Linked DNA regions of Homo sapiens: region 1 is linked to region 2. Evidence: fine-mapped expression QTL. A gene starts in region 2. The other region holds a variant in brackets. All regions are shown on one strand. Distances are from middle to middle.

The links.
Region 1: its variant is fine-mapped to the expression of LTAP1 in whole blood (TOPMed, PIP above 0.99).

What each region holds. Positions count from the first base shown.
Region 1 is chr1:154,257,812-154,267,060 of GRCh38, reverse strand. UBAP2L (ubiquitin associated protein 2 like) reads right to left here. Exons shown (of 27, transcript NM_014847.4): 21 at 8,031-8,084; 22 at 7,032-7,113; 23 at 5,952-6,169; 24 at 5,364-5,469; 25 at 493-560. It overlaps SNORA58B (small nucleolar RNA, H/ACA box 58B), which reads right to left and starts at 7,334; the gene lies at 7,199-7,334. The variant C/T (reference allele first, on the strand shown) is at 3,880.
Region 2 is chr1:154,215,683-154,224,931 of GRCh38, reverse strand. LTAP1 (lipid transport auxiliary protein 1) reads left to right here and starts at 4,342. Exons shown (of 7, transcript NM_001098616.3): 1 at 4,342-4,590; 2 at 4,995-5,096. The coding sequence starts at 4,525. UBAP2L (ubiquitin associated protein 2 like) reads right to left here and starts at 3,977. Exons shown (of 27, transcript NM_014847.4): 1 at 3,957-3,977. RefSeq lists silencers at 3,804-3,953, 4,814-4,883 and enhancers at 3,474-4,221, 4,204-4,643, 4,222-4,969.

The DNA.
Region 1 (9,249 bases), 42 kb before region 2:
GCTTTATAGCAAACTTTAAGTATTTATGGTGATGGGGGATAAAAGCAACATAACAAACCTGTGGATCACTCAAATGCTTCATTAGTTACTAGGTCGTCTCCTTTCCCACTCCCACTGTTATAGATTTACTCAAAGAATGGAATGAACTAGTTTCCTGTCACTCTCATACTTATTCTCTTGAAAAGTTATGAAAAAGGTTGGGAGTAGGTAGGAAAAGGGGCCAGGAGAGTTGCACAGTAAATTACATGACACGATAAACAATTTGCCACGCTTTACCTTCCTATTACGTTTCTCGTTTTTTTTCTCAGAGGGCTAAATTTTAACTTCTTAGAGGAAGTGAAGTCTAGAGAAGACCTTTCATTTAGAAAAAGTAGGATGGGTTTCCTGCCACCTCTCCTAGGGTTCTTCTTGTCCACTGTTATTTCTACCATTGCAACTCCACCTCCTCTATGTCTATCTCTTTTCCACTTTTATCCAGAGCCAGGCACCTACCTGGGTTTTGGAGTACACAGAACCCGAGATATCTGGCACGCCCGTGTTACTGGAGGTGACTGAAACACCTGGGGGAGGAGGAAACAGACAGGAGGATTAGCTCAGCTAGCTACCTGGCCCTTATTCCTGAGATGAGGTGATATCTGTAGCCTTTCTAGCTATACCAATGCAAGGGAATTTTGGTCGGTTTTCCAGCTTCAAGTTAGTCCTGAGAGGTAAGAGTTCATGAAACAAAAGCTCCCTAAGGGTTCTTTGGCCCTTCCCAGGTACGTGTTGAGTATACGTGAGAGAGAGTGAGGTAAGTTGTTTTTTGGTGGGCAAGGGGATATGACCAAACCTCACTAGCATACACTGTTTTCAAAACACTTCTGTGCCAAAGTCTAGCAGGAATATAATAAACTTTTAATTTTAATGTCCATTTCAAATCAATCCACCCAAATGCCACTCAGTTTTATTCCTGGAGACTGGGGCAGTCTGGCCCTCTCTCTTCCTGAAGTGACATTTCTGGGCTCAAAATCCATGCCTCCACTGCATAAGTACTAGAGGAGCAGTCCACTTTAATCCCCAAGGGCACTCTCATTCTCAGAGCCTCAGCTCAATTAGTCCAGCTTCTTTAGTCTTGGAGCATCTAGGCTAAATCTTCAAACTTAAGATGTAAAGGTCTAGTATCAAGATCAATTTCCATGTACACAATTTAAGCCTAAGTGTAGCGGGGTGGGGAGGGATAGGTAGACAGGAGTAGGCCATCTCCTATAGCCTAGGTGGAACACAAAAACCACGTCATTTTCAGTATACAACTTCAGCTTCTCCGTAAGATAAAAGCTCTCATACCCCAACTCTCATATTTCCTGTTGAAAAAAACTCCCTACTAACCACTACAACTTTAAAGAAACCAGAGTAGTACAACATGTCATTCTAATTTGTACTCCTCAAACAAATAAATACTCATACTATATTCCATCACCTGGGGTATAAGGCATCGGGTCAAGAAGATAGGAAAAGCCATGAAATAAATAACCTAACATCTTTTATACTTTCCATTTTGAAACAAAGATGTGAAGAAAAGTAAGTAATTTAACTAGGAATATAAAGCATGATTTTAAAAAGATATATTAGTTTTTATAAAAATAAAACAAAGCTTCAGAAAAACTTTGCCTGTCTATGCCCTTGGATCCTTCCCATCAGAGGTACACATTTCCTTCTCCTCTGCTATCAGGAACACTGATGGAAAAGAGTTTTAGAAGCAGTGTACTAGAGTGGCCAAATCACAAATAAGGAATCCTCCATTCACCCACAATTCAAACTCTAGAACCTAAATCCTCCCAATGCCTCAGACAAAGGCAGCCTTCCAAAGTTAAGCCCACCTTGAACAGTCACTTTTGAAGTGGTATCTTAATCTGGAAAACCTTCCCAACATCCTAAGTCCAGATAGTTCCTGGGAGGGGCAAACACTAACTAGGAAAAATAACGGAACTACAGAAAACCAAGCAAGAGAAAATACTTCCTCATCTCCGAAGCATCAACTGTCTAAAGACACTGAAGTAAAAGAAGGGAACGATACAGGAGTATCTTAAAGGGCTAATGGGGTATTTTTTCCATTCCCTTTTCAAACCCGAGGTGCCCATCTGGCAAATCACTGAGTAACAGGCATAACTTTTAAGAATAGGAAGTTCAGTTATGGAAAAGGCTTAAGCTAGTAAGTTCATGTGGAAGGGTGGAGAGTAAAGGTGGAATAAACAGGATATAAGTAGAACATTTTTAAGTCAAACCAAAAGAGAGAATTTATCTTTACTGCAAAGGCAAAAAAAAAATAAAAAAATAAAAAATAGCATAGTTGGTCACCTTCTGCAGTGAGGCTAGGCTGCCTATATTGGATGGAAGAAATGACTAACTGGATTCTCAAGCCGAGTGGTAGGGAGGAATTCAGCTCCAGTGTGCCCCTACCTGATCTCATTCTTTCCAGAGTTTAGGCTAAAAACAGCTTCTAGTCCAGAGGCCTTATCTTTGATATGAGGTTGAAGGGACTGAGAATGCAGGAACCATAATACTCTGTAGTAGCCATAATAATCTCAATTACAGTATTAGAGACCTAGAAAATAATGGGTACTGATTTCACTACCCCTCACCAGTTATTAGGAAGATCTTCAGACTACAGAGTTCTCTTGCTTTCCTTCCAACATCAACACCCCCTACTTATCCCCAAACAGTGACAATACCAGAATCACGTGGGCAGCAGGGCAGAGACACATGAATCTATCTCTCCCACCATGGCAGCCCCTGGGAAAGGTGGTCACACTCCACAGAGCAAAATTACTCCAAAGGGCTGGGAACAAATACAAGGAAAGCTGAATACTTTGGTTTCTAATTCACCCAGGGTGGTGATCTCACTGTCCACGTTAACTTTATAAACAAAGGGCTAATGTTGTATGCTAGCTGGACTGGGAGGGAATTAGAATTTCCATAGTCAAGGAGATATCTGACCAAACCGCTCCTGCACATCCTTAGCTTATACCCACAAATGCAAAACTGGTAATCCACGATCTCTGAAAAGCCATCAAGGGACTAAGAACAATGTTCCAGGATAGCACAGTCGCCACAGAGCCTGAGTCATCAACTAGCTTATCACTAATGACTTTATCAGATCTTAGCCACTTGGCCTTTAGGAACCAGATAGATGTGGGAATTAAGCCTTGAAAGATACTTCTCTAACAGCTCTGAAAACTCTCTCTTTTGCCTTTCACCATGACATGACACTCCAAACTTTTTTGTCCTTTCCCCCACTGCTTATGTAAGAGGCAAAGGAAAGATCTAAATGGAAAAATGAAGCAACATAAGCATGGAGAATCAGGTATTTCTACAAATAGTTTCCTTTACCAACTAATCAACAGGTGGGAAACTGAGGCTGTTTCCCCTCCCCCCACCTTCATAAAACCACCATACTGAAAAATTAATAGTTCTTTGGCTATGCTGGGGTTTGATTAAAAAGGCCACCCTCCACCCTTCATCCACAGCACAGCATTGGTTCCTAGTGTCCACAAAGACATGCACGGAAAGAACGCCAGAGTTAGCTAAAGAAATACCACAGTTTATTGAAGACTACAAATATTTTTGTTACAAGTTGAAACTACATGCCTTCCAGAAATCAAAAGCAACAGCAGGTGTGTGCATTGATGCTTCGAAGGTGCTGCACCGCTTGAACTTGAAATGGGTAAGACAGGGTCAGACACATGGGGGAGAGGGAAATGGGGGAGGGGCAAGTTCAAAAGCCCAGAAGGTATCCACCAACTCATTTCCCCAAGCCACGCAGGCCATGGCCTCAGCTCAGCAGGCTCTCCTCAGTGGTCTGGTTTCTGAAACAAGACTTCAGTGCAAATTTATACACACACA[C/T]AAAACACAGCCCCCAGCCTTGGGCCAAATTAGCTCTCAGCCGTCCAGAAATGCTTGTAAGGGGGTGGATATTTTCTTCCTAAAAGGAATCAAATACATAAAAATAAATGAATGGAATGACAAAAGCCCTTTGTGGGGTTGGGAACTGGGGGTTCTCAAGGGCTGATATAATACGTTTCTGAATTCTGAAGGGAGGCAAGAAGGTGGGATTTCTAGAATCAGGTATGCCAATTCTCTTATATTATCCATCACCTACCTCTTAAAATTCGTGAACCTGGTCCAACTAAGACTTCAACCTAATGTCCTCAGAAAGGGGCCACCACTCCAAGTCAAAAGGCTTATAATCCTCCCCACCAAGATTTAGGGTGAACCTTGCTCAATGACAGGGGTGGCCACAAGGAGTCTATGTATTAAATCTCAATGGGGCTTCTCAGGATTTGTTTAATTTAACTCATGACCCACTCTAACTCATGCAGCACAGTTCAAAGCTCCACTTGGCTATCAGTTCCTAGCCCTTACTGCCTTCTGTGCTCTTCCCAATTATTGAAAACTGTGGGCAACTGACCCACCCAGAGCCCACATAAGGGTGAAAAACACATGCTGCTCTATCCAAATCACCATGAAACTGTAACTGAGCTGACAGCTTTGAAGGACAACCCCCATCCCCAACCCTAAGCAATCAGAGAAACCTACTCCTCCCCTATTCATCTACAAGTCGCTGAAAAGGTACAATTATATTATTCAAAGATTCCTTCTCACTCCCTGTCCTCCAAAAGTAGAGCACAGATGTCAGGTATGGAAGCAAGGGAGAGGCTGAGTATCTTTTAGGTAAGTACCCATCCAGAGGATTCCTACAATTCCCTCCCTGCCATCACATATGCAAAAAGACTTGCAAAGAGACCAGCCATACAAATGAAGGAACCTAAAGGCCCAACTCTCCCAGTCCAATTCCCACTCTATTAAGTATGGTCACGCCTACTCCTTTTTCTCCACAGTTTAGGTCTTCTAGCTAGGGAATAAAAAAGGACACATAAGAAAAGTAGTGCTACAAAGTGATTTAAGCCAAACCTATCGTAGGCTGCTAGCTATGAACCCATTTAATCCTTCTACTCAGTGAATACACCCCCCTTTTGTACTATCAGTGCCATACATACTATTAACACTTGCCTCCACTGACATTTCAGCAAAATCTTGGGGCTCCTTGCCCTACTTCCACCCACACTTTTGGCCAACCAACATATTCTAAAAACCAACACATACTCTTGGGCATTCCCGTCACAAATAGTGGACACATGTCCTAGTATCAAGCTCCTCTGTTGGTGCTGCTCCCACAGATACCCAAGTCAGCCAAGCATTAACAATCATACCTGGGGCAGCGGCACACCCTCACCAATCCCATTTTCTCAAGCACCAAGTCTTCCTCCCTGAAATTTATCCAATAACACCCCACAGATAACACCGAGCCAGAGACAAGGTCAGCTTACCAGTGTTGTATCCATGAGACCCATATCCACTCGGCTGTTGGAAAGGGGTGGCCGATGCATTCACACTGACATTCACACCATGCTGCTTGGAAGAGGTAGGAGCCACCTAAAGAGCAAAAAGGCCAGATTTGCAGTGACTTGGCAGCAGAATACCATCTGTCCCACTTGTCCTGCTCCAGGTACTGGCCATTCAGATGGCTACCTATCCTGATGCAAGTTGACTACAGTTTGCTTAGTGAAATTAGCTCCTTACTAACTGTTCTAGAATCTACTAATGAAGTCAAGAAATGGTAGTTTGGAGGAAGAAAAAGGGACAATGGCAGCAGGGAATGAATGAATCTGAGTGAAGCAAAGCTGTATGGTATCATATTCTCCCTTTGGCAAATTCTAAGACTAGGCAATCCCTATCCTAATTCCACCAATTCCAGCCCCATTCCCCCACCACCCTGCATCAGGCCAAAAACAGGCCAGAGGTGGAAACTGTTCCTCCTCATCCATTATTAAAGTCATTGACCCTTAAAAGCAGCTAGGATAGTGTCCAGGGCTAGGATCCTTCACCACAAGGAGTGACCAAAGCCAGGTACTCACAGGGAACACAGCAGGCCCATACTGGAAGGTGCTGGGGAGGCCCGGGACCCCTGTATAGTATGGCAGGCTGGTGTAACTGTAGCCAGGAGGCAGCGCCGGGTTCAGGAATGTCTGCTGCGTGGTATGGTGAGTCTGCGTCTGGTTCTGTTGGGGTTGGGCCAAGGTTGTGGCCGGGGCTGGGGAGGAGGCATCCCCACGGCCGAACTTTGTGAGGTCACCTGTGACAGGAGAAGCTAAATGTACCTGCCTCTTTCACCCCAATACCAATACAGAATTACCTCTTCTGATTTCACATGATTCCAGGAGATCCTGTTCAAAGACTATTAAAGTTCAATTCCTTGAATTACATTTCTTAGTGGCTCCAATTATTGTTGCTCAGCATACACTTAGCACAGTTGCTGCAAGTCAAGGACTAATGTTGAATAACTGTGCAATGCTATGGCAGGAGGCTCTTGGAATAAGGCACCTGCACAATTTCTCTGCCCACTTGTGTTCTCTTTCATCTTCCCTCTTCTTCCCTCCCCTCTTCTCCTCCATGGGGAATACCCCATGCTGGACTTGAAGGACAACGATGGATCAGGGAAAACGGTAAGTCAATGAGGACAATGATAGGTCAGGTAAAAGAAGGAGTGGCAAGGCAGTGAGATTGCCACTGTGAGTAGTAGCATAAAGGGGCAGAGATGAGCAGAGAAGACCACCTCAACCACTGTATTTCCTGGAAAAAGCTAGCAAATGGCTTGAAACTAAGTCAAGATATCACTTTTTTTGGAGATGGGGTCTTGCTATGTTGCCCAGGCTGGTCTTGAACTCCTGGGCTCAAGCAATTCTCCCACCTTGGCCTCCCAAGTAGCTGAGACTACAAGTGTGTGCTACCATGCCTGGCTAAGATATCATCTAGAAATCACAGGGAGACAACACAAAGTGGGATGAATAGGAAAAGCCATGACATGCCCAACTTTAGCAGGATTTTGAATCTACCAATCCTGATTTATCACATCCCTTCTTGCTACCAATCAGGTGTCTGCCATCAATCCCAACACTATCTCCCTTTTTATTTATTTAGTCCCATCCCAATCCTACCAGAATAAGGGTTGCTGGCCAGGCTACCATCCCTCCCAGTCAGCGGAGTAGTGGGTGTGGGAAATGGGATGCTGTAGTAATCCTAGAAAAGAGGGGAAAAAAGAGCAGAGATTCAATGTCACTCATTCCCCAGCATGAGTACTATTTCCACGGAGGAAAAAACAGAAGAATGTGAGAGTTGTGCAATTTATCCAGTCACTAATTAAGCTGGCTAGAGTTAGCACAAACTCCACATTACTCTTGCATACACTGTCCCCCCTGCCTGGCCATGAGCACAGTCAGACAAGGTCTACGGGTATGCCCACTTGAGAATACATCAAAGTCCACGAGGACCAATATTTTCAACCCTCTAGGTGTCATCCCTATCAGTTTATACCAAGCTTATTCTACTGAGAAAACAGATCATTCGATAATTTAAAGTGTCTGGGACAAACAGAAAGCACCCTGAGTGCTCCAGAGTACTTTACTGGGCTATAGAATAGGTTAAAATGTATTTACTAAGATGCCACAACTCTGATTTAAAAAAAGAAAAAAAAAAGGCTGGGTGCGGCGGCTCATGCCTATAAGCTCAGCACTTAGGGAGGCAGAGGCGGGTGGATCATAAGGTCAGGAGTTCAAGACCAGCTTGGCCAAGATGGTGAAACCCCGCCTCTACTAAAAATACAAAAAAAATTAGCTGGGGGTGGTGGTGGGCACCTTTAATCCCAGCTACTCGGAAGGCTGAGGCAGACAATTGCTTTAACCCAGGCGGCGGAGGTTGCAATGAGCCAAGATCACACCACTGCACTCCAGCTTGAGCGACAGAGAAAGACTCTGTCTCAAAAAAAAAAGTTATCTTCTGTTGGAAACCCTCCCCCAAATCCCTATATTCTAATATGCCTTAAATCAGAGTGTATGGAGGGCTGGGATGGGAAAGAGCTATGTCTGTGACGGAGATAATTCTCCCAACACTAATTTTAAGACTACTTTCTTTTCCAAAGCTCTATCCCACATACTCACCAATGGAAATCTTGTCTGAAGCATCTGCAAGTCATCATAACCATATACTTGTGGCTGAAAGATACAGACATATAGCAATAACAGGAACTGGTCATGATGTTAGCAAAACAAGGAGCCAAGAGACAAGCTAATTCAACAGAACATTCATCCTCATTCTGGGTTAGAACAGGACACGGATTATTTCCTTCAATTTTATTTAAGGAAAAAGCAGTAAAGTACACAGAGATTAAATGATTCATGAAAGGTCTTGAAGCTTTCCTTGAGCTAAATACTACTGATTCTAGTAGGCTGGCTTCTTGATACCAATAGAGTAGACACAAAACATACACGAACAACCAGTTTTACTCTCTATTCTACAAGTCTCTGTCTCTTATACTCTTCAAAATCTGGCTTAAAAATAATCTCCTCTGGAAAGAATACTTCACTTTTCTCCAATGTCAGGGTTTTAAGGTAGTGACCACAAATTAAAAATGTGTAACTGTGTTATTTGGATGTGTCATCGGTATGAAATTTATCTAGACTTTGTCTATGAGGGCAGGAACAGGTATCTTCTAAAACGTTTCCATATATCCTTCATCTTAATAGGTACCAAATACTTGAAGGTCACAGAAGATACACTAGGGCAAAAAGCTACTAATGTCAGCCACTTATTCTCAAAGTCCCAGATTGAGTCAGGAAACTTTCCTCTAACCAGGCCAGACCAGCAAACACACTCAGAGTTAGGGATTTAATCAAATCAGAGAAAATAATTCTTGGGGCCAGGAGTAGTGGCTCAGGCCTATATATAACCCCAGTTATTTGAGAGGCTGAGGCAGGAGGACTGTCTGAACCTGGGATTTTGAGACCAGCCTAGGCAACATAGGAAGACCCTGTCTCTAAAAAAATTTTTAAAACTTAGCCAGGCATGGGGATGCACACCTGTAGTCCTAGCTACTTGGGGAGTCTGAGGTGAGAGGATTGCTTGAGCCCAGGAGTTCAAGGCTGCAGTGAGCTAGCTATGATCGTTCCACTGTACTCCAACCTGGGTAAAAGAGCAAGATCTGCCTCAAAAAATAAAATAATAGTCATAATTATCTAAGAAACCAAAAAGGATTCCAGATGAACATTCTGGCCTTTGGCTTCTGAGGCCCAGAAGCTGTGTTTCAAACAGGGCAGATATTCTCATCACACATATACATACACATTGTACGCACACACACACATGCATACATGTGTGCAC
Region 2 (9,249 bases):
TTCCTTAAGGAGCTATGGCTGTTAATCCATTTTTATGTAACAAGAAATGTATAAAGCATGTGTAAGTGATGGATTTTTTTAAGAAGTTACAGCAGTTTGGTTACTAGTCCCCCATAAGCAGACTTTACATTTAACTAATAATCAAAAGCCTTTTACATAGATGCAAGTATCTGAAGTACCTTTGACAGAAGGAAAGATAATCAGTAAAGTCTGGAAACAAAAACCTTCCAGGAAGGAGATTAGTCTACACTCCAGAGAAATAATTTTAAATACTGTATTCAATCACCTAAGAAAACAGCCTTACCTGCCTTACAACCTTTTTTATGTAAGCTGCATGTGACCTCCATTGCTTGGGAAAGGACAAGTTCAAGTCTAGACTCTTCTTTGTCCCTCAAGTTTCATCTCTCTCAGTATGCTATGGGTTTGTTTTGTGTTTGTGGGGGTTTTTTGTTTTTTTAAACCACAGCCTTCAACAGGGTACGTATTAGCCCCAATGACTTTGTCCAGAATCTCTGTTCTCTGGAAAATAATTCCAACACACTGCTTTTACAGGTGCTTCTCTTGGTCTCCTAGTCCACATTTTCAAGAAACCAAAATGGCAATTACCCTCCACCACTCACCTTAATATACAGGGAATCTCAAATTTGTCTCAAACCAAAAGCATCTAGCACAAAGTTTTATTTGGAAGAAAGTGCTTCTAAGAAATCATTTTAAACTTGAGACCTTAATGCTGGCAAGATGACTTAGTTGAGTCTTTAAAGAGACACAGAACACACAGGGCCTTCCCCAAACCAGAATATAGTTTTTGTTACAAGACTTCTAACAAGGAAGGATTCTACTGAATTCAAGTTCCTTTAGTTCATACTTTGTTTTATAATACAATCTCAGCTGCTGCATTTAGTAAAAAAGAAAACATTAATCATATGATAGAGTGTTCAAAATAATAGGTTACTCTGCATTTATTCCCTTCCAAAGAGGGTAAGTTTATACTTTTCTGCTCTATATTTAATTTTTCTTGTTAATGAAACCTTATACAACGTAATTCTAGACTGCCCAGAGATATTACTGGATTTGAGTGGGAGGAAGGACTTCTAAAGAAATATGCAAGGATTAACTATTAGGGAAGTGAATTTCATCTGACTTTCTTGGATGTCACAGAGAAAGCTGACTTTTTCTGTGCATAAATTCTTCACCAAGTTGCGTCAATAGGTTGCATAGGTCTTTGTATCAAGAAAGATTTTTTTAAGGTAGCTTCTCAGGTAATTTTTAACCCATTACCTCTTCCCCCTACACATATTGGCACACAAAAGCCCATAAGTATTTCAAGCTAGAAAGGATTATTTGCTACACAGTAGCCCATTTTCCCAGGTTAGCATTATAGTCGTTTCAACTTTACAAAAAAAAAAAATGTTTAACCAAGTACCCCGAATCCAAATCAACAAGACTACATATACACATATATACGTATATATATAAAGACGAGAGGAAAACTATTTTGTTTTAAAATTGGCTCTAAGATGAAGTTTCTAATATGGCATAGTCATTTCCAACCCACTACTGTAACTTACAAATATTGACTGTTTTCTACTCCACATGTGATATCTATTTGTGAGGATAAGTTATATTGCAGGTATAAACTGCATGACTAGCTATACACTATTGCATATACTGTACCAGTCAGATGTAAACATATTAAAAAGTCATCTTGAAAGATATAATTAACCAAGAAAGAAAAAAATTCTCCTAATCACTCTTGCTAGTAACATTTCCCTCTTACAAGTGCTTCGAAATGTGACTAAGAAAATTTTTACCACCTAGTAGTGACAACACTGAGCAACAGGTCAAAAGTAAGTGATCTGGAATGGATCACTTGAGGGCACAGAATTAGTAGCAAGCAGACCCATTCCCAGCTATCACACTGGAGATGAAGAATCTTGTTACTTACTTGCTCTTTCTTAGAAAATAAAAAGATTTAAAGGAAGTAGGGTGAGAAGTATTGGAGACCAAGGAAATCGTGCGAGAGTAAACAGAGGTTTCAACACAGGAGTGCCCTTGACTCTTTTTTGAAAACTAGCTACTTAAAAAAATAGCCAGAGAAATTTCACTGAAAAAACTAAATAACAAATATTTATTGAGAATCTACTATGTGTCCAATACTTCAGGAAAATACAAAAGCAGTATGACTTAGTAGCTGCCCTCAGGGAGCTTACAATCTAATTTAAGAAACAATTCAGAAACTGAAGCTAGACTGAGTTGGGTAAAATTTGCTACCTCTAACAGAACAACTAATTTCTGTAGATGCTTTGTTGAAATGGCCCCTGCATCCCCTTCCCCACCACCTTGATATCTAGTTAGTAAGAGTACTTCCCAGTTAGGACATAGCAAGGAGGAGCTTTAAAGATGAAAAACAAAACAGGACATTTTTAGGCCTTTCATCACTAGTTTATGTGCCAGCAATATTTCCCATTCACAAAGGAAACAATCATTGAGATAGTCTAATCTTTAAGGACAATGGTGTCAGATCTCAAAGCAGTTTTATCAACTGATACACAGCCAAAATGTTTTAATTCTCTGTAATCATTGGGATAGTCTAATCTTTAAGTACAATGGAGACAGATCTCAAAGCAGTTTTATCAACTGATACACAGCCAAAATGTTTTAATTCTCTAGAAACGCTGGTTACTAGTAATGTCCATCACCTCCCAGCAAGTCACATCAGGTATCCCCAAAACAGGATATGCGGCGGAGGAAGGTAGGATGGGAGAGAAGACAAAAAAAAAGGATTTCTCCATTTAATAATCAGGGAGAGTCAAAGGCAAAAACGTTAACAATAATAACAAAAACGCCTGTTACTGTGGTGTTTTTCTTTCCACAACATCCTACACCAGAGGTGGCTACATTTCAAGAATGGTGGAAAAGGAGCAGTCTCCAGTTTGTGACATCAGTTTGCAAAGCAATTTAAGGGCTGTCCACAAGGTTAAGGGTTTGAAGAAACTGGGCATTCCTGTACCATTATGAGAAGAGTGAACAAATACCCCAGTGCTCTAGTGACGTCCCTTAAGCGTAAATACACCCTATGGGGGCCTCCATGTCCAGCTTCCCAAATAACACAATTGTTTGGGGTACCCAAACTACAGTATAAACAGGAAGCTAAAGACAGCAGCAAAAACATATTCCAAGAACTGGGTTGGTGAGAAAGAAGGGAGGGTAATAAGAGGAGCTGACAAAGAGCCTGGAAACGGAGAGGGGACGCAAGCCCACGGGTGGAGGATGGGAGGCTCACCCCCCTCAGCGCCACATCGAGAGCCCACGGGGCCAATCTCCTCCCTACCTCCCAGCCGGAACAAATTAATCCTTCGCACACCAAACTGAGGGCCACATGGGGGAGTTTGGGGGAGCTCCACCCCATCGCCCTCCCTCCCCCACGCCACCCCCAAACCAGGCCGGATCCGGATCAGAGGAGGCCCGCAGTGGGTGGAAAGGGAGGAGGCCCTCTCCTCCGCAGGCACCGGCCGGGGTGAAGAGAGAGCCCTACCTCAGGCAAGGCCCAGGCCTCGCTCGCTCGCGCTCTTTCTCGCTCTCCCCTCTCAGGCTCTAGCCGCATGGCCCCCCCTTCCTACGGCTGCTCCAAGCCCCGCCCCGGCCACGCTCCCAAATCGAGGCCCCGGCTCTGGCGCGGCCCACTAGGCCGCGAACCCAACCATAAACAAAACCTCCGGGGGCCGACTCGAGGTGGGGGGCGCCAGGGCTCGCATGACTCGGGGGGGGGTGTACAGTGGGGGAACACACGGTGTGGGGGGGCCTACCGAGGGAGGGGATACGGCGGGGGCAGGGGAGAAAAGAGGGAGGGTAAAAGGGGGATCGCGGATTTAAAGGGGCCGCGGACAATACCCGGCCCCGCCGCGCTGCCGCTGCCGCCGCCGCCGCCGCCAACGCCGCTGCGCTCCCAACTTTACCTCAGTCTCCTCCACACTGACACCCCGGGCCGCGCCGCCCCTGTCACGTGATATAAGATTCCCTCTTCCCCACCCCCTCCCTCCTTTTCCCTCTCGCGCTCGCTCTCGCGCCTTCCCCCGCCCACTTGCCTTCCTGCGTCCCTCAGCGCGTGACGCTAAAAGGGGCGCGCACGCAAGCGTGCGCGTGCCGCCTCGCCACGAGACACCTCTTTCCGGCTCCGCGAGTCCACCCCGCCTCCTTCACGGCGGCCCTGCCTCCACCACGTGACGCACGGATGGCCGCCGCTTCCTCTTACTGTCGTAGTTCCGCGTCTGAGCGCTCGACGCTCCTGGGTGCCATTGCCTGCCTGAGTCACGTGTCAGGGGGAAGCTGGAAGGCGTCGTTCTCCTTTCCCAGCTCTCCTGCCTGTCCGCCATGTTTTCAGGCCGGGTCTGGCTTGGTCTTCCCCCGTAAGGAAATGGCCGGGGAGCTCCAGGGGACCCAGGCGCCGTCGCTTCGGCGGAGCCTGGGCTGACCAGCCAGGACAGCGGGGTAAACCCGAACAATTCTGCGCGAGGTAGGGAGGCCATGGCGTCCGGCAGTAACTGGCTCTCCGGGGTGAATGTCGTGCTGGTGATGGCCTACGGGAGCCTGGTGAGGAGATTACCCCACCCCATTCCTGCTGTCGCATCTTACCCAGTAGAGACCCTCCTTTTGAGCTGTACCCCGTCTGCATTCTCCACCCACTCACCTGCGCCTATCCGGGCTTTGACTCCTTATTCCAGGAGTAGGTGGGAGTTTAAGTCACTTAGTCGGGCCGACCCGCCCTCGTTAGTCTAGAACCCTCCCTTTAACGCTAGAGCACAGACCCCACGCCTCCCTGCTGCTGGCTTCTTAGATCCACCCCCATCATAACGGCCTTGCTTTGCCCCAAGTTTTACCCTGAAACATTCCTGAGAGCCGGAATCTGGGGATTTGGAATGAAGGCATGCTTTTTTAAAAAAAAAACAAAACAAAACTGACTTTTTATTAAAGGATTTTTACATCTTTTTGGACAGGTGTTTGTACTGCTATTTATTTTTGTGAAGAGGCAAATCATGCGCTTTGCAATGAAATCTCGAAGGGGACCTCATGTCCCTGTGGGACACAATGCCCCCAAGGTAGGTCCTTAGGGCACAAGTTAAACATACTTCTCCAGATCTTTTAGGGTCAAGAATGAGATTTCCTCTGCCTTTAGTGATGACTTTAATTCTCATGTTTCTTTGCGTGCACTTGTCCTTGTACTTACTAAGTTGAGCAGGCACTGTGCGCTTTGGAACTTGGCTTACCTGCTCAGTGCTGTGGCAAGCATGTGGCTCATCCTGGAACTTCTGTTTTTGTATCTGCAGAATGAAGGGCTTGGGTCGAAGTTCCCAACTGTTTGTAGTAAAATATTTCCCAGCTCATCTTAAACTACCCAGTGTTTTTTGTTTGATTAGGATGGGGTTGAGATCATTAAGGTTAACCCAAGAGCAATGAGAAGGGTTACCTTTACATAATTTTAGACTTAAGAGGAGCTCCATAAATCATCTAATTCCACCATTCATGTTACCAAGAAGCCCAAGAAAAGGAGGCAGTTTACCAGAAGACGTATAGGAAGTGAATAACCCAGTGGTCTTTTATCTTTGTCTGTACTTTCTCCTTAGGTGACTGTCTTCCTTTCCTTGGCTTTAGCTACAGATGAAATTTTATCTCTATCCTAGAACTCTTTCCTGAGTTCCTTACATATATTGCCAACTGATTACCTGACATTTCCACTTAGATTTGTAGTAGACATCTCAAACCCAACATTTGTGAATCAGAATTATTGCTATCCCACTGCCACTCTCATTCTGCTTCTTTAGTCTTTCGCTTCTAAGTAAAAGACACCTGCTTCCCTTACCAACCCCCTTTTGTGTGGCTCTCCCCAGATCACTGGGACCCAGCTCCACTGGCTGAATTTTCCACCCTTTTTGCTCCTGTGATCTGGAATGGTCTTCAATTGGCTAGCTCATTCATTCTTTTGATCTTAGCTTAAATGTTACTTCCAAAAAAGGAATGCTTATTACCTATTTTAAAGTAGGTTCCCCCTCTCTTTATTTTCACATGGTACCCTGATTTTTCCTTCATAGCATTTACCATAATTTTTATGTTTGTCCATTTGTTTAAAACATGCCTCTCTCTTCCGCTAGACCGTAAGCTTCAAGAATGCAGGCACCATGCCAGTTTTGTTCACGACTATAAAGCCAGGACCTACACATAGTAGGTACTCAGTAATTTCTTGTTGAATGAAAAACAGGTTAGTGCCAGGGCCTACACATAGCAGGTACTCTGTAATTTGTTGCTGAATGAAAAACAGGTTAGTTGTAGAGCTAGAGCTCATGACTCCCTCAACTCCTAGAGCACTGTACTTTCATTAACAAGTGCTATTAACCTTCCCCTCTTTGTTCTTTGCTGACATAGTACATGAAAAGGCTCTAGGAGGATGTCCTGGCTTGAAACCTTAACAGTCCTGCCTGCCTCATGAGAAAGACATAGGGTTAGTTTCTAGCACATCATGAACCAATCAATACTTTGGCTATTCAGGGGTCCCTTGGTCTAGTTCAGAGCAATATTCCTTTTGCTTAAAAATTTTTTCTAAATTCTCAACCATTGCTAGTGAAAGTATAAATTAGTAAAACCACTTTGGAAAATAACTGGTCATTGTCTGGTAAGATTGCACATGTACCTAATCCATGGTCCAACAGTTTCTCTCCTACCATAGAGAAATTAAGTTTTGCTCATGTGTACCAAGAAACATGTGCAAGATTATTTATAGGGGCATTGTTCATAATATTTGAAGAAGAAACTTAATTCAAATGTCCACTTTTCAATTATTATATAGGCTGAGTGCAGTGGCTCATACCTGTAGTCCTAGCACTTTGGGAGGCTGAGGCCAGAAGATCATGTGAGCCCAGGAGTTACAGACTGCAGTGAGCTATGATTGCACTGATGCACTCCAGCATGGGCAAGAGCAAGACCTTGTTTCTAAAAAATAGGTAGTGGTATATTCATATTCTGGAATAGTGTAAAAAATGAAAAACTGAAGATAAATATATGAAGACAAGTCCTCAAAATACTTCTGAATGAAAAAAATTGCAAACATGAATCTCAAAAACATGCTGAGTGGGCCGGGCATGGTAGCTCATGCCGGTAATCCCAGCACTTAGGGAGGCCGAGTTGGGCAGATAACACTTGAGGTCAGGAGTTCGAGACCAGACCAGCCAACATGGTGAAACCCAATCTCTACTAAAAATACAAGAAAAAAATCCTAACTACTCGGGACGCTGAGGTAGGAGAATCCCTTGAACCCAGGTGGCAGAGGTTGTAGTAAGCTGAGATCAAACCACTGCACTCCAGCCTGGGTGACAGAGCGAGACTCTGTCTCACCAAAAACAAAAAAACCATGCTGAGTGAAGAAAGCCAAAATGCCGTTCACAAGAGAATATGTACCATGTGCTTCCACCCCATTTATATGAAATTCTAGAACAGGCAGAACTGTAAAAGAGTACATCATGTTGCCTGGGCTGGGAGAGGGGAGATTTCCAGGTGATGAAAATATTCTTTACTTTGATTGACGTGGTGGTGAAGGGGGTATGTTCATTTGTCAAACTCATCAATTTATATACATAAAATGAATGCATTTATTGTATGTAAATTCAACCTCAATAAAGTATATTTGAAAAATTTTGCTGGGTGCGGTGGCTAACGCCTGTAATCCCAGCACTTTGGGAGGCTGAGGCAGGTGGATCACCTGAGGTCAGGAGTTCAAGACCAGCCTGGCCAACACGGTGAAACCCCGACTGTACTAAAAATGCAAAAAAATTAGCTGGGCGTGGCGGTGTGTGCCTGTAATCCCAGCTACTCAGGAGGCTGAGGCAGGAGAATCACTTGAGCCCCGGCGGAGGTTGCAGTGAGCAGAGATCACACCATTGCACTCCAGCCTGGGTGACAGAGTGAGTCTCTGTATCAAAAAAAAAAAAAATTTAAGGCCAGGCGAGGTGGTTTACACCTGTAATCCTAGCACTTTGGGAGGCCGAGGCAGGCTGATCACGTCAGCTCAGGAGTTCGAGACCAGCGTAGGCAATATGGGGAAACCCTGTCTCTATAAAAAGTTTAAAAATGGGCCAGGCGCGGTGGTTCACGCCTGTAATCCCAGCACTTTGGGAGGCCCACATGAGAAGATCACAAGGTCAGGAGTTTGAGACCAGCCTGGCGAGCATGGTGAGACCCCATCTCTACGAAAAATACAAAAAATTAGCTGGGCATGGTGGCATGCGCCTGTAGTCCCAGCTACTTGGGAGGCTGAGGCAGGAGGGCAAGGAGAATTGCTTGAACCCAGCAGGCAGAGGTTGCAATGAGCCAAGATCATGCCACTGTACTCCAGTCTGGGTGACAGAGCAAGACTCCATCTCAAAAAAAAAAAATGTTTAATAATTAGCCATGCATGGTGGTGTGTGCCTGTAACCCCAGCTACTCAGGAGGCTAAGGCAGGAGGATCATCTGAGCTCAGGAGGTGGAGGTTATAGTGAGCTGAGATTGTGCCATTGCACTCCAGCCTGGGTGACAGAGTGTGACCCTGTCTCAAAAAAAAAAAATTTTTTTTTTAAACAAGTTGCAGAGGGATTCTTAAAGTATTTTTCCATTTGTATCAAGTTGAAAACCAGGCAAAGCTAAGCATCTTTTTTAGGGTGACACGATAAAACAGTGAAGAAGTGTATGAGGACTATTGACAAGTTAAGGTTTGGGGTGCGGAGCATTCAATGAGGGATGGGCACACAAGACTTGAAAGTTAGTGGTAGGGCCGGGCGCGGTGGCTCACGCCTGTAATCCCAGCACTTTGGGAGGCCGAGGCGGGTGGATCATGAGGTCAGCAGATCGAGACCAACCTGGCTAACAAGGTGAAACCCCGTCTCTACTAAAAATACAAAAAATTAGCCAGGCGTGGTGGCGGGCGCCTGTAGTCCCAGCTACTCGGGAGGCTGAGGCAGGAGAATGGCGTGAACCCGGGAGGCGGAGCTTGCAGTGAGCTGAGATTGCGCCACTGCACTCCAGCCTGGGCGACAGAGCGAGACTCCGTCTCAAAAAAAAAAAAAAAGAAAGTTAGTGGTAATGTTCCATTGCATAAACTGGATATTGGTTATAGGTGTTCATTATTATGCTTTTTATAATTATTTAAAATGTACATCTATGTTACCTGTATTTTGTGTATCTTATGTTTCACAATGGGAGTTTGTAAAAAGTTACAACAAAAAA